Homo sapiens: one gene and its partner. The protein of the gene in region 1 interacts with the protein of each later gene in a pairwise test. Each region holds a gene or a part of one and is shown on either strand. Other genes may lie near its edges.

Region 1 (3,953 bases):
TTGTTGGAATTTCTTGGCCTACTAGGACAGTTCTGTGCTTCACCATGAGGTTTGCCTTTGTGGAAAACTGGTGACAGTGAGAATATAAACTCAATGTGAATCACGTGATACTTCGCAGGCGTGTGTTACAGTGGAGTCAGCTGACAGTATTTTGCTTTTTAACTCTATTGTTGCCTTTCCAAGTGACCTCTCCTCTTCTTTTAAAAAAAGAACACTTTCTGCTCATATCATAACCAGGTCCAACCCAGCTTCTTGGCATGAGGTTTACCCTGGTAACAACTCATGTGCAACTGGTAGTCTTGACCACATTCCATCCATTTCCTCAGGTTTCTGTGGTTCAGTAGCCCAGACCTGTTTGGCAGCCATTTCTAGCAGGGGCGGGGCCTCTTTATTTCTCTCCACCCTAACTCAGACCTCACCTTCCTCCCACCCACCCCTGCCTTGCTTTTCTTCCTCTTCCCCCAACCTAACTTCTGCCATGGGAACTGGTTAAAAACACTGCTCTAAAAACCATCTTCCAATTTCATAGAGATTTCTCACAAGTTATTTCATTCATAATCCACCATGAACAGTGACTAGCTTCGTGCAGTTGTTCATGTGATGTGTGTGTGTCTTTTCCTATTCAGAACTATGTGCTTGTCAAAATTATTTCTGGGTTGATTCAAAGGGAGGACTTGCTGGGGACCAGAATCCAAACGGCCTCAAGTGGAATTTTAAAACCTAGCCTGTCTCTTTTCCCTGGGATCCCTCTGTCAACCCCACGCCTTTTAGGAAAAAGAAAAGTGAGTGAACAGCAAGGAAGAGTGTTTGCACAGTACAGTAACATTTGGTTGTTCTTAAGGCTCTTTTCTTACAAAAATAAGAGACCCTCCAACCACGGGCTGTTTAGGAGGATGCCTGCTTGGGTCTCCAAATGGCTGGGGTAGGAATGGTTGTTGGGGCAGAGCCAGTGGAGGTGAGTGACCCTGAGACTAATGAACATCCCACCTAAATCCAGTCCTCCCCTTGGATCTGCCTTTGTCCTGCTTGTGTATCCAGGCAACCTCTTTTCAAGTTGGTCAGGCTTTGGACAGGTGAGTGATTTGCTGTATGTGTTTGTTTCTCTGCGTTACCTGGGGGTGCCTTGATTAAAATCGAACTTTATTACATACTGATTCTGGAACAAAACAGTTAGAAAAACTTTAAAAAAAAAAAAACCGACAAAGTTACGAGGCCATCCTGCTATTTATCTTCTGAGTTCCCAGCAATGACTCAGGCATCAGAGATGATGCTGCAGTGGAAAACCTGACTCTGTGTGTCTGCAACTGAATGTTGTGCGAGTAATTTATTAACTGTCTTTCTAAAGGTTTGCTGCTTTTAAGATGCACTATAATTCGGGATGTAATCCTTACATTGCTTTTCCAAGGAAGGGAACAAAAGTCTAGTGATTAGTATGCCAACTGCCACTACTCCTTCAAAAGGAGCCAGGACCAGCGACAAGACTCATGAGAGGACTGGCTAAAGTGAAGTGTGCACAGTGTGAAGTTTAATGCTGTTGTCAAGAGGCCTAAACCCACATTTTCTCTTTTAATATTTTATGATTGCCATCAAAGAAGAAGAAAAAGAAGGAACAGACAAAGGTTTGAAAATGATAAGCCTGTTAAGACACCAAAAACTCCTGTCCCGTGAAGCTGCTTGACATCCTGTGGAGTAGCATAATCCTCTCAAAATGAGGAAGAGCTGCCTGCAAAGCTTTCTCAAGTCCCTATTTGGCTACCTACTTCTCTACATTATGCCCCATTTAAACTAGGAGCTGTCTTAGAAATGACTTCAAACTGCTTCACTATTGCTTACAGTTTAGGAGGAGTCTCAGATCCAGAAGGAGCAAGAATCAAGTTTGGTCCTCAAATGACTGTAAATAGACTAAAGAACAAGGTGTTTTTTGTTTTTGTTTTTGTTTTCTAAGAATAAAGCTGTTCGTTGTATCATGAGTTAGTGTTTCTTCCCCAAACTGAAGACTGTGTTGGAAGTGCAATTTCTGGTGAGTCAGTCCACAATACAATGCCCTGTGTGGAGTTGGTATTCATACAGGAAATCTGTGTGCACGAGGCATTGTGTGTTGAAAGTGTATGTTTATAGTACTGCCTGAGCCATCTCATGACCCCAGCGTCCAAAACCGATGCTGTAGAACAGAACATATCTGTACACAAATAGTGTGTGCAAATAGCATTTGTACATAGAAAAGTCTCATTGTGGCAGATTGAGCATAAATTATTCAACTGACGGTGCAAAAACATTACTTGCAAAGAAAAGTTTATAGTATTTTCCTACACTCCACCCTGGGAGATGATATTTCTATCAAATGAATATCAGTGCATTTTAAATGTAATATGAAAACGATGCTGCCATTTTGTGAAGAATACCCACTTGGTTGCAGAGGCCAACTTTCATAGCTTTGATTTAATGTTGTGACACGGTGTATGCATTTTGCTGTCAAGCAATGGATAAACAGCTCTGACTTTCATTCTCATTCCAGTTTATTGACCTCAGATAAAACACTGGCCCTTCTTAGAAGCAGAAGTGTGCACCAAGACCATTCATTTCAGGTAGACTCACATTCAGTGCCAAGTGCTCCCATGGGAATAATCAGACGCATATGTTGCGAAAGAGTGAAGGGACTTGGACAAAGAGGGGTTTTCCTACAGATGGATGCTCAGTCTTCTACCAAAACATGTTTGGAGGCAGAACTATGACCTCCCCTTAAGTCCTAACAATGTATTTTGTGTGTGCAAATCCTGGGATGCCCGTTTCACGCTCTGACATAAAGACATGGCACCTCTAGTGAGTGATCAGGAAGATTCCATATGCATTTGGGAGCTTCAGGTGCTTGTTAGACACAGTGAGCCATTCAAGGCAAGCACCACCTTTGCTAGTGAGGCCAAGAGAGCCTGTGACAATTTGACAATTTGTTCCAGAACCAGTCTGATGCAAGTGCACCTCTAATATATGCCTTACAAACTCCAGAGGCCATATTCAAAACAGGGTCTTCTCAGTGTATGCAAGGGGCTGCAGCCCCTCTTCTCTTCCTCCCCAGGTTGAACAATACGGACAGTTTTCACACATATCTACCTGTATAACCCTCTGTACCTCTCATAACTGGTCAACGACTGTAACAGGTTACATCAGGTGTTTTTCTACATACTTTTTACACAGATTCTATGCGATTAATGTAATTTAATTCAATGCATCATTTTATTGTACTAGTTCTTAGGCTTGTCCTTATTTTTTTCTAAGTGATTGTGGTTTTTCTCGTGGTTTTTATTGTAAAAAATGAAAGGCTGTTGATGCTTATTCTCTGTAACTAAGAATTTTTACCTTTTGGGGGAAAAAAGCATTGCTATGAACTAATGAATTGAAACTTCATTTACTCATTGTAAATACACTATTGTGCAAAAAAAGTTTTCACTCAATTGAATTGCTAGTGTTAACTGAATTTTGTCTAGACACCATTTCTGTTGATGAAATAAAGACATATCATTATGCATTGTAAACTGATTTTCTCTGCCTCTGATCCCTATGTTCCAAATTACAGAGTGAGAAACCTCAGGAAATCTTTTTTCCTAGAGGCCATTTCTCTTCCTCTAGTTTGGACCCTTACTTGCTACCTGATTAATCTGATTAGGAATCTTTAAAATTGGATAATATTAATGTGATTCCTAAACTCTGAATTTTAAAAATCCCTAGTGCCTGTGAGAGTAGATAAAAGGCTTTAAACCCAATTTCTCGGTTTTGATATTGTGCTATCGCTATGCAGAATGTTACCACGGGAGAAAACTGGGTGATGGGTATCATTTCTTGCAACTGCATGTGAATCTGCAATTATATCCAAAATAGGCTGAATTTTTTAAAAACTAAATGAAAGTAAATGAGAAAGAACATTAAGCCAACACCAAGATGCAGTGAGTTGCAAGGAA
Region 2 (3,600 bases), on another chromosome or scaffold:
ACTGCAGCCTTGACCTCCCAGGCTCAAGTGATCCTCCCACTTCAGCCTCTCAACTAGCTGAGACCACAGGCACACACCTCCACATCTGGCTAATTTTTGTATTTTTTTAGAGATGGGGTTTTATCATGTTGCCCAGGGTAGCCTCGAACTCCTGAGCTCAAGCGATCCACCCGTCTCGGCCTCCCAAAGTGCTGGGATTACAACTGTGAGCCACCATGCCCGGACAAGGGGCAAGTATTTTTAAATTGATCCACCAATGTTTAAAAATTGGGAAATTTCACATTTTAAAATTAGGATTTCTGACTTCTCTTGAAAAAAAAAATAAACAAAAAACTGAAAATCTGGCAAAATAGGCTAGAGCTGAGTAGTATCTGCCACCTTTGAAAAAATACAGAGCGTTCTAAGTCACAGCAGCACCACTGCTCCCTGTGGTCATACACATTACACCAGAGAGTGCATTTGAGTTTGCAACTAATGGCCTTTCCTGGTGGCCATCATCAGAATCTCAAGGCCTATAGCTCCAGCCCAAGAGATTCCCAATCCTGGAGGTTCCGCTGGGGTGGGGCTCAGTGCTGGGCTGCAGGGAGATGCTCAGGAAGCCAGCACTGCAGAGCAAAGGAGATGGAGATGGTGACTGGGAGCATTTTCACTGTGTGCATAGTGTGTGAAGTTAAGGCACAGAATGGAATTGTCATATCCTGATGATTTTTAGGAACCTGCAGGATGAAATGGCTCAGTCAACCTCTCCATGCCCCTTAGCTCCATCTATTGAAACACTACATATCCTTCAAGACCTGAAGTAAATGGCACCTCCTATGATAGTGACTGAGTTGAAATCTACCACCCATTGACCTCTATTCTCTGAGCTTCATGACCCTTTCCTCGGTATTTGGAGGCAGCAGATCTTCCCTGTGCTGAGTCGTATTTTCCCCAGTGCTGCCCTGGGCTCCCTGTGAAGACACCTCAGTTTCCAGGCACCTGGAGTCCCATGCGGGGCATTTCTCCAGAAATAACTCAGTGACTCAAACAGGAGAAATCGGGAAGATGAAAAACGTTCTGGAAACAGATGGTTGGTGATGGTTGCACAGCAGTGTGAGTGTGCTTAATGCCACCAAACTGTATGCTTAAAAATGGTTAAAATGGTTCAAAAAGAGGTGGGGGGACAGAAGGGACCCTGAGGTGATGGCACTGTTTAGTGTCTTGACTGTGTAGGTGGATACATGAAGCTACATAGGTGATAGCATTGTATATAATTAAACACACATACACATTCATGAGTGTAAGTAAAACGGAAGAAATCTGAATGATACAGGTGGGTTAATATTCTGGCTGTGATATTAGTTCTCTAAAATGTTACCATTGGAGAAAACTGGGCAAAATGTACAAGGGATCTCTTTGTATTGTTTTCCAACTGCCTGTGAATCTGCAATTATCTCAATTAAAATTTCAATTAAAAAAAATGAGGAGAGGGCCTGTGCTTTGCCCAGCAGATCTCTCCTCAGGGACAGGATCTGTCCTGGACCACCATCCCCTCCCAGATGCCTGAAAAGTGTGCAGTCAGTGGGTGGCAGGAACATTAAAGTGTCCCTGGGTCATAAGCTTCATCACAGGCCACCTAATAGTTAACAAAGAGGGCTTCGGGGTGAAGTATACCCCTTTGTCTCATACTCAAGTCCCTGTGTCTCTATAGGTCTCCTCCTGTCCCACCTGGCCTCCTCCTCTTCCCCCAGAGCCCCGCTCCGGCCAGGCCAGGCCCCTCCCTGCTTCCTGCACGTGGCATGCCCGTGGCTGCCTCGAGGCCTCCGCTCACACTGTTTCCCGGCCTAGATTGCCTTCTCCACTTTCTCACTCCCCAATCATTAAGAATACCAATACTTATGATTGCCAAAAATAAAGTGGAATAAAACAAATCATGTTATGTTTTCAATCAACTTTCTATTAGTACCGATTTCAGAAATGAAATTTATTTTAGGAGATTACCCCTATCCTTATCTCTACCCATCCCTATCTTTTTTTTTTTTTATTATACTTTAAGTTTTAGGGTACATGTGCACATTGTGCAGGTTAGTTACATATGTATACATGTGCCATGCTGGTGCGCTGCACCCACTAACTCGTCATCTAGCATTAGGTACATCTCCCAATGCTATCCCTCCCCCCTCCCCCCACCCCACCACAGTCCCCAAAATGCTTGCTTGTGGAGTTTTACTTTGCAAAAAAATAAAAATAAATAAAGAGTACACTGTATAGCTTCCAAAAAAAAAAAAAAAAAAAGAATACCAATACTTTCACACACAATGCAGACACCTATTACTTCACTTTGTCTTCTGAATACCTCTGGAGGTTAGCATAGCAGGGACTATTTTCCCTATTTTACAAGCCACCAGATAGATTCAGAGAGGTCAAGTGACTTGCCCAGGCTCACACAGTAAGAAGTGGAAACAGGTCATTAGACTCCTGATGCAGGGCTCATCCCAGTAGGCCACACTGTTGAGAGACCCAGGCTGCCGCACCTCTCTGTTTCCCCAGACCCCACGGAACCTGGCTCCTGCCCACACCTCCACCTTTATTTGGTCTCCATTTCTTGCTCCCTGTGCTCCAGCCACCTCTGCCTTCCTGCTACTTCTCCATCATGCCAAGCTCATTCCTTCTTCAGGGCCTTTGTACTCACTGCCCTCTCCTGAAGTGCTCTTTCTCCAGTATCACAGAGCCAGCTCCTCCACCCCTTCCAATTCCAGCTCAAATGTGCCTCCTCTGTGACACTTCCCTGGAAGACCTTAGCTTCCCCACCCCAGTCACTCTCTATCATGCCACCCTGTATTATTTTTTCTGCATAGCACTTTCTATGTAAAATGTGCTTGTTTACTTACCTCTCCCCCACTATATGAAGCATCATGATAGAATAAATTCCATCCATCTAGTTTAAAAACGTATCTTGGGCCCAACATTGTGCCTGGCATGCATGAGACACCCAGTAAATGTGTGTTGAAGGAATGAATGCAGCTGTAGTGGCCTCCTGACGCTGCCCTTCCCACAGGCTGGCGGCGCGCATCATGTGGCGGGTGGAGAGAGAAGGCACCGGGCTCACGGAGGGCTGCCTGGTGTCCGTGGACGACTTGCAGAACCACGTGGAGCACTTTGGGGAGGAGGAGCAGAAGGACCTGCGGGTGGACGTGGACACATTCTTGCAGTACTGGCCGCCGCAGAGCCAGCAGTTCAGCATGCAGTACATCTCGCACATCTTCGGAGTGGTAGGCCCCCTGCGTCCCTTCTCCATCCTCCCTGTCTGTCTCCTCTTTCCTTCCCTCCTCCCACTTGGGGAGGGTGGGGCTTCTCAGAAGTGAACTAAGAGGCAGAAGCCCTGTCTGCCCTGGACCCTGATTTCTATTTCCATAAAGGTCTCATCTAGCCCAGGCAGCCAGAGGCGCTGGAGAAACCGCCTTCTATTTACCGCATGTAGCAGAAACATCTACTGCCCCTTCCATTTCTGAGCCCAGGGACAGGCCTCCAAATGACCCAACTAATAAAATCCGGAGATTCTAGAGTATGATTCCTTATCAAGGAGGGGCCATGGTGACAGCTGGGATCGTCCAACTAAGA

What was found.
Region 2: the proteins of BACH2 (region 1) and SMYD1 interact in binary tests that used the Homo sapiens proteins (3 or more experiments, as listed by UniProt).

Annotation. Positions count from the first base shown.
Region 1 is NC_000006.12:89,926,109-89,930,061, reverse strand, and holds the end of BACH2 (transcription regulator protein BACH2), read left to right. Parts: 3' UTR 1-3,534; downstream 3,535-3,953. UniProt on the Homo sapiens protein: Transcriptional regulator that acts as a repressor or activator. Binds to Maf recognition elements (MARE). Plays an important role in coordinating transcription activation and repression by MAFK.
Region 2 is NC_000002.12:88,084,825-88,088,424, forward strand, and holds part of SMYD1 (histone-lysine N-methyltransferase SMYD1), read left to right. Parts: intron 1-3,037; coding exon 3,038-3,251; intron 3,252-3,600. UniProt on the Homo sapiens protein: Methylates histone H3 at 'Lys-4' (H3K4me), seems able to perform both mono-, di-, and trimethylation. Acts as a transcriptional repressor. Essential for cardiomyocyte differentiation and cardiac morphogenesis.